Linked DNA regions of Homo sapiens. The protein of the gene in region 2 interacts with the protein of the main gene of each other region in a biochemical or structural test. Each region holds a gene or a part of one and is shown on either strand. Other genes may lie near its edges.

Region 1 (3,500 bases), on a different chromosome or scaffold from region 2:
TATGAAAAGATTATCTAGTGTCTACACTTCCTGGAATAAGATGAGAACCTTATGTGTTTTCCATGATCAAAGTGTTTAACAAAGGTCAAGTTACTTCCCTTGCACTTCAAAAACAAAAAAAAATCTAGATACTTTGGTGAATTATTTAATGTTTTTCACTTTATGTAATATCAAAAATGAGTTGGGTGGGGGAAAATCCATTCTTTCCATCATATCACTCACCTCAAGACAGACTCAGTCCTGTCCTTTGTTAGCCTCCTTTTCAGGATGATTGTAACACATCACATCAGTATTCATAGTGAAGACAAATTAATCAAAGATGTCTTTTTGTTTTTTATAAAAGTCATACAATCTTATGTGAATTTTACATAGATACAGAATATGCTAAAGATATAGAAGCAGCTCAGTGCACAATGGTTCATGTAAGTAGCTAAATCAGGTGAATGAACTTACATGCATATGTCACACAAACAACCTCTGAGAAATTACCAGCTCCCATTCAGTCCTGCTGTGATTTGCCCATCATCACACAGTCATGTCTTAAATTCCAGGTTATTAAACTGACCACTAAGAAGATTGAGTAACCGAGTGGAAAATCTAGAATCTGGTCTATCTAGAATCAGATAGACCCCGATTAAGACCCCAGCCTTCACCCCACCCCCTACAACTCTCATTTGCTATTAGCTGGTGACCTTGGAAAATTAGAAAGACTACCAAAAAAAAGTAAGAATTTGTTTGTGTGCTGTGTATTTCTGTATGTTTTCCCTTTTCTCTCCACATAAACATTTTTTCAGAATAAATTACAAAACAAACAAACCAAAACAAAATAGGACTATTGTCTAGTACCTCTTCACATCTACCAACTTTATTTATTGAATATCTAATAATAATCTACACAACTCAGTGGCAGCACCAGAACTTCCATAATTTAAAAGTCTGCAAAGAAAATCTGGTTGTAACAGGGACCTGGAGGAAGTCTTGTAAGAATATAAGTTTTACTTAATATGTTATATATAGATCTTAAGATAGTGATTTTTAAATTTATAATTTATAAAACATTGATAACACCAATAATTATCTGTAGCAAGGTATGTTGTTACTTTGAGGAGGAAGTTTTGGGGTGCTGATGAAGATTTTGGAAGATTTAAAACACCATCTCCAAGAAGCCACTGATAGAAAATACGGGCTTCATGGGATAGGTGTCCTCAGCCCAAATTACATGGAAAACACTCACAAAATAGTTGTTTATCAAATGAACTAATAAGTTAATAAATAACTGAATAGATCTAGTTGTCCTAGTCAAATGAAATACTCAAAAAGTTTTTAGATCCTGAGAACTGGAAACCTGAAATTCTTATTTTTCTATTCATTTCTATATTTTTCAAATTGTCTAGAATAATCAAGGTTTACTTGGGAAAAAATTGAACATGAAATTTCATACACAGCATGTGATCAAAAGATAGAGGAAGAAAAACAAAATGTTAGCATGGGCTCTAAGCAATTTCTTTTTCCTTCTATTTCTTGACATTTTCCAAATTTTCTATTATGTAGAAATTTTTACCATAAATAATTCCCATAAATAACAATAAAAGGACAGAATCAAAATTGTTTTTAAGAATTATTAAGTGCCTTCTACATACAGAGTTGGGTTAAGCTGACAGACCATTCGTTTGTTCAGCAAACAGGTACTGAGGACCTGCAGGCACTGGCAAATAAGCAGAGACCCAGTGATAGCCTACATGAGCTCACCAGTTGCTGCAAGAGAGCCTGGTAAAGAGAACTCCAAGAGAATTATTCAAAGGATCATCACAGCAGAAGAATACCTATGCAGGTGTGAAAGGGGCTGAAGAGCAAGGGTTATACAAGTGGGATAGGGGCTGTCTAGAGGACATGATCTTTACAGTAAATTTGAATACAATTTATAATTTGCACCATTGATAAAAAGATGTGGAGAGAAGGAAAAACAGCATGGCCAACAGTAGGAAGACCAAACAAGGTCACATTTTTAGAAAAATGCAAGTTACAAAAAGAGTCACAAAGTGGTTAGAGATAAAGCCAGACAAATCTGAAGAGATTCAATTACATATGTGTGTGCAATGCTAATTGCTTTTATTTTTCCTAAATGCACAAAGACCAAAGTAGGATGATTTGACACTTTCCCCACACACTATTTTACATTGAGAAGATTTTAAACTTATCACCTTGATTCTTCTCTTTACTTTTTGCTCCAATAATGAATAAGAAATTGGTACTAAGTGTGAAAGCTAATAAGAGGAATACCATACAAATGAATGAGAATTCAAACATAATAATTCCAGGCTATCAAGCAGTCTTAAAAGTGTTTCTAAAGTTTCTATTGGCTAGATAAGAAATAATCGAAAGTCTTAAAATTTCAAAATGAATCTAGCTCAAAGAGCTGTCAATCTCCACATTAATGTCACTGATAGAAATTTCAACACAACAAAAAATTGAGAATGGTTAATATTGCCCGATTTAAGTTTGACAAAAATGAAAAATTACATAAATTATATTTTTTGTAGCATTGAGACACAAAACCAATTAAAAAAACTAAACTAGCGGTAGCCAAAACTACACACAGAAAATGTTTCTGGCCAAAGAGAAGAATTTAAATGGTTTTGGAAAATTTAGATCTGTATTGTTTGAAAAGAAGAATTACCTTTAGAAAAGTAATAATCACAAAGGAAAATTCCAAGCATAAGCTATATTCAGTAGAACTTGACATGGGTAAAATGGATTCATGAATCTAATAGTTATTGTAAAAATTAAATGAAAGTGATGCTGCTAAACATTAGTTCAGTAAAATTAAAATTAAAATGGAAAAACTGCCAAGGATTTCACTAGGTAATATATATATAATCATCAGGGAATTAAATTGGTCTAATGGAGTTTTTTTCCTCCAAAATTTATCTTTAAGGAAAACTCATAAATGTTGGTATATTCTAATTAAATATTTGTTTTCATAAAAGTTGAGCCAAAACATACTTGGTATCAAATCACGGGTTCAGTATATTTTCTACCAATAGGAGCTTTTAAAAGAGGAATGGACAAAGGTAAGTTCTGCCTTTTACAAAGATTATCCTGGTAATGGTGGGTATGGACACAGTAAGGATTGAAGGCAGGTGAGACTTCAGGATATTTTTACACTAAGAAATCCCTGGCAAAGTAGAAGTGTGTGGATTTACAAACTATTTAGACTGTAGAATCTGGAGAAGCCTGAAAAATCTCTGAAATAAAGAATGCAAAGTTAAAAGAATTCAAAGGCCTATAAGGGATTATGCCTCTATCACTTAACCTTAAACTATCCCTTTATCTGCTCACAGTGTCTGAAAGGAAGAGATATCATTTGGAATCAAGTTTATGCTAAAAGGCTATGTGCTCTGATTTCATGGGCTCACATGAAAAAATTTACTTCTCAGAGTATCACATAATTTCAAAGCATTTTCACAAATATTATAACTTTTAATGCTTACAACACTTTA
Region 2 (4,040 bases):
GAATGGGTTAACAGAGTGCAAGCCTGGAGGCCAGGGGAGGGATGAGGGGACCCTGATGGGGCCTCCTAACTGATCCTGACCTCCCCGGCCCCCTGCCCAGTCGGACCTCTTCCAGGATGATCTGTACCCCGACACAGCCGGGCCCGAGGCAGCCCTGGAGGCTGAGGAGTGGGTGAGCGGGCGGGATGCCGACCCGATCCTCATCTCACTGCGGGAGGCCTACGTGCCCAGCAAGCAGCGGGACCTGAAGATCAGCCGGCGCAACGTGTTGTCTGACAGCCGGCCCGCCATGGCCCCGGGCTCCTCCCACCTAGGGGCCCCCGCCTCCACCACCACTGCTGCTGATGCCACCCCCAGCGGCAGCCTGGCCAGAGCCGGGGTATGCACGCGCAGGCAGGGGTGGTGCTGGGAGCCCCAGGTGTGGCCCTGGCCTGCTGTGTGGGCTTCAGCCATTCGCTGTCCCTCTCTGGGGTAGTGGTGGGTTTGGGAGGGCTATGGCTTAGCAGCCCCTGACCACCGCCCCCTACCCCTGCTTCATGTCCCCACAGGAGGCTGGGAAGCTGGAGGAGGTGATGCAGGAGCTGCGGGCCCTGAGGGCGCTGGTCAAGGAGCAGGGCGACCGCATCTGCCGCCTGGAGGAGCAGCTGGGCCGCATGGAGAACGGGGATGCGTAGGGCCACAGCCACACGCCACCTTCATCTCCTCCGCCGCCCCCTTCCCACTCAGCTTCTGCCAGCGGGTCGCACCGGGCTAGCTGGCTGCCCAGAGCCTCTGAGGCAGCGCAGGGGTCAGTTCCCACCCCCACCCGTCCCAGGCCCAGGCCGAAGCCAGCGCCCAGCTTTCCTCACTGTTCCTGTGGAGGATGTCTACGCCCAGGCGAGCTCCTCGACCTCTGAGGGACCATCTCCCCGACCACTGCCCAGCCCTCTGCTCCCTCCCCAGAGGAGGCGGGAGGGTGGGCTCTATATTTTCATTCCAAATAAAATTCTCTTTCTAAAAGCCAGGCTGACCTGCTGCTGCAAGGGTGGGGCTGAGAAGTCTGGAAACCTGGAGACAGAGGATGTCACAGGAGTCACACATGTGCAGAAGGTCTGGGGGCAGTGAGCAGCCCCACAGGCATTGCTCCCCTGGATTGTCAGGCAGGGAAACTGAGGCAGAAGACCTGAGAACACATGCAAGGCTGCATCCAGCTTCAAGTTGGTGCTGCTTCTTCCTTGGAGGACAGGCCCGGCAGCCCAGCCTCCTCCAGAGAGACTGGGGAGGGTCTGGTGTGGACCAGGGGTCCTGCAGCAGGGAGGGGCAGGTGGGGTATGTGGGCAGGAAGCGGAAGCCTGGGCCACCCTTCACTGCAGACGAGCACTGAGCTCACTTCTCGCTCGACACAGCCAGAGCTGGAGGTGGGTGCCCGGCACGGAGGGGCCTGCGGACCAATGGTAAGCCTCGGAGCCCCCCGGGTTCTTGGGATGGGGGCCACAGGCGGTCGGGGCTAGAATGTCTGGGCCTGTGGAGCTAAGGAGGGCCCCACATTGGCCCCAGGGAAGAGGTGAGACCTAAGAGGAGTATGGCAGAGGCTGAACCTTTCTCTCACCTGAGCTGGGCTCCCTGGGACTCCAGGCCTGGCCCCCAGCACCCCATACCGGACCAGGCCCCTGTCAGGAGCCCTGGGAAGGCCCTTACCTGGTCTTCCTGTGAGCGGGAACTTGCATTCCTGGAGCCTGGGCGGACAGCCTGGGGTGGTGGGGGAGGCTGGCTGCACCTCAGCACCCCTCCCCCGACACCCCCCACCTAGCCTGTTCCGACCGCAGACTTCCTCTGGCAGCTGCGCCCGCCTCCCCCAGCCCCCCCCAGCCCCCGGCCCTGCACGCCTGTGGCCCTCAGGGACTGGGAGTGGAACGGAAACCCTGCCGCTGGGGCAGCCCCGTGGTGGGGAGGGAGGAAGAGGGGCCTCACGGACCCCCGTTTGGGGACCTGGCCAAGCAGAAGATGAGCAGTTGCCTCTGGGTGCATCCAGGCCCCTCCATCCCCCATCCCAGGCCTCAGGGAGAGCCAGCCCTGACACCAGCTAGCAACCTCCTTCCCTCCCTCCCATCTCCTCTCCCACCCACCCAGGCAGCCTAGACACATTTAATCCATACTTATTGAGCACCTACTAACATGCTTGACCCAAAAAGCCCCCGTTTCCTAGCAGCTTATTGTGGGGGGTAGATAAGACAATAGACATAAAAAATGAGTACAGTTATCTCCTGCGTTAGGTGACATGGAAGGAAAAAGGCACTGAGTGCTGGGGGGTGCTGGGGTGGGCTGCAGTGATAGACATCAGGGTAGAGGTTAAGGTCAGGTTCAGCCTCACTGGGGTGAAGTTTGAGCACGGTGAGCAGGCCATGCAGCCCGGGGGAGGGGAGGATGGGAGGAGGTGGAGCTTTCCGGGCAGAGGGAACAGCCAGTGCGAAGGCCCCAGGCAGGTGGCTTAATGCAGCTGTTGGGGGAGGTGAGTGGTAGGGAGGAGGCTGGAGGGATGGGGGCTGATCTCACAGGGCCAGAGCCTGGTTGACCAAATAAGGCCTTGGCCTTTTCTGCTTGGCTGTCCCAAGAGGATCCCAAAGAGAAAAAAACGAAAGTGGTCTTGGTCACCCAGCCTGCCCCACACCAGGCCCCACCCCAGGTGCTGAGCCCTCTGAGCCCCTGCCTGTCTCCCACAGGCTCTGCCCTGCACCTTAGGGCTCGGGATGCTGCTGGCCCTGCCAGGGGCCTTGGGCTCGGGTGGCAGCGCGGAGGACAGCGTGGGCTCCAGCTCTGTCACCGTTGTCCTGCTGCTGCTGCTGCTCCTACTGCTGGCCACTGGCCTAGCACTGGCCTGGCGCCGCCTCAGCCGTGACTCAGGGGGCTACTACCACCCGGCCCGCCTAGGTGCCGCGCTGTGGGGCCGCACGCGGCGCCTGCTCTGGGCCAGCCCCCCAGGTCGCTGGCTGCAGGCCCGAGCTGAGCTGGGGTCCACAGACAATGACCTTGAGCGACAGGAGGATGAGCAGGACACAGACTATGACCACGTCGCGGATGGTGGCCTGCAGGCTGACCCTGGGGAAGGCGAGCAGCAATGTGGAGAGGCGTCCAGCCCAGAGCAGGTCCCCGTGCGGGCTGAGGAAGCCAGAGACAGTGACACGGAGGGCGACCTGGTCCTCGGCTCCCCAGGACCAGCGAGCGCAGGGGGCAGTGCTGAGGCCCTGCTGAGTGACCTGCACGCCTTTGCTGGCAGCGCAGCCTGGGATGACAGCGCCAGGGCAGCTGGGGGCCAGGGCCTCCATGTCACCGCACTGTAGAGGCCGGTCTTGGTGTCCCATCCCTGTCACAGCCGCTCACTCCCCGTGCCTCTGCTTCCCAAGATGCCATGGCTGGACTGGACCCCCAGCCCACATGACCATGCCTCAGACTGTCACCCCCTACCAGTTCCCAAGTCCATGTGTACCCCGCTCACCACGGGAACGGCCCCCCCCAACCACAGGCATCAGGCAACCATTTGAAATAAAACTCCTTCAGCCTGTGGCCCTGTGGTCCTACAGAGACCCCTCCCTCCTGGACCAGGGGCTCCTCCTGGCACAATCCAACCCAACCCTGCCCCTAGGCATGCAGCACAAAGAGCCAGGTCAGCACCATGATTCAGCCCTTTAATCTTCCACGGGAGCAGTTGAGCGCGGGGCGTGGCGGGCGGCCCTCCGTGCCCATGATTCAGGGGCACAGCTGCCCCAGCAGACACACACTTTCATACGCACTCACACCCCACCCCCAGACACACCCCCAGGTCTCTGGAACTGGCCCAGGGTCCTGCTGCTCTCACAGCCGCAGGGACAGGGCTCAAGGGCTACCCTCACCCCCACCCGGCTTCCTAGCGCCCTGGACGCCCACGGCCCCTCTTGGACTTCTTGGTCCCTGAGGGGGGACGGATGGGGAGAGGGGCGGTGGTCGAGGGCGGCGGCGGTGGCAGGAGTGGAGGTAGAGGTAGCTCCGTGGGCTCCGGCAGGCTGGGGCTGGGCCGAAACCCCTCA

What was found. Proteins that work in one complex are often made in the same cells at the same time.
Region 1: the proteins of PTPRCAP (region 2) and PTPRC form a complex in vitro, tested with the Homo sapiens proteins (one study listed by BioGRID).

The regions. Positions count from the first base shown.
Region 1 is NC_000001.11:198,645,540-198,649,039, reverse strand, and holds part of PTPRC (receptor-type tyrosine-protein phosphatase C isoform 1 precursor), read right to left. Parts: intron 1-3,500. UniProt on the Homo sapiens protein: Protein tyrosine-protein phosphatase required for T-cell activation through the antigen receptor. Acts as a positive regulator of T-cell coactivation upon binding to DPP4.
Region 2 is NC_000011.10:67,435,010-67,439,049, reverse strand, and holds PTPRCAP (protein tyrosine phosphatase receptor type C-associated protein), read left to right. Parts: upstream 1-1,367; 5' UTR 1,368-1,430; coding exon 1,431-1,433; exon of another isoform or gene 1,434-2,699; coding exon 2,700-3,317; 3' UTR 3,318-3,540; downstream 3,541-4,040. Other genes in the region: CORO1B (coronin-1B), read left to right, coding at 101-379, 549-674; RPS6KB2 (ribosomal protein S6 kinase beta-2), read right to left, coding at 3,881-4,040.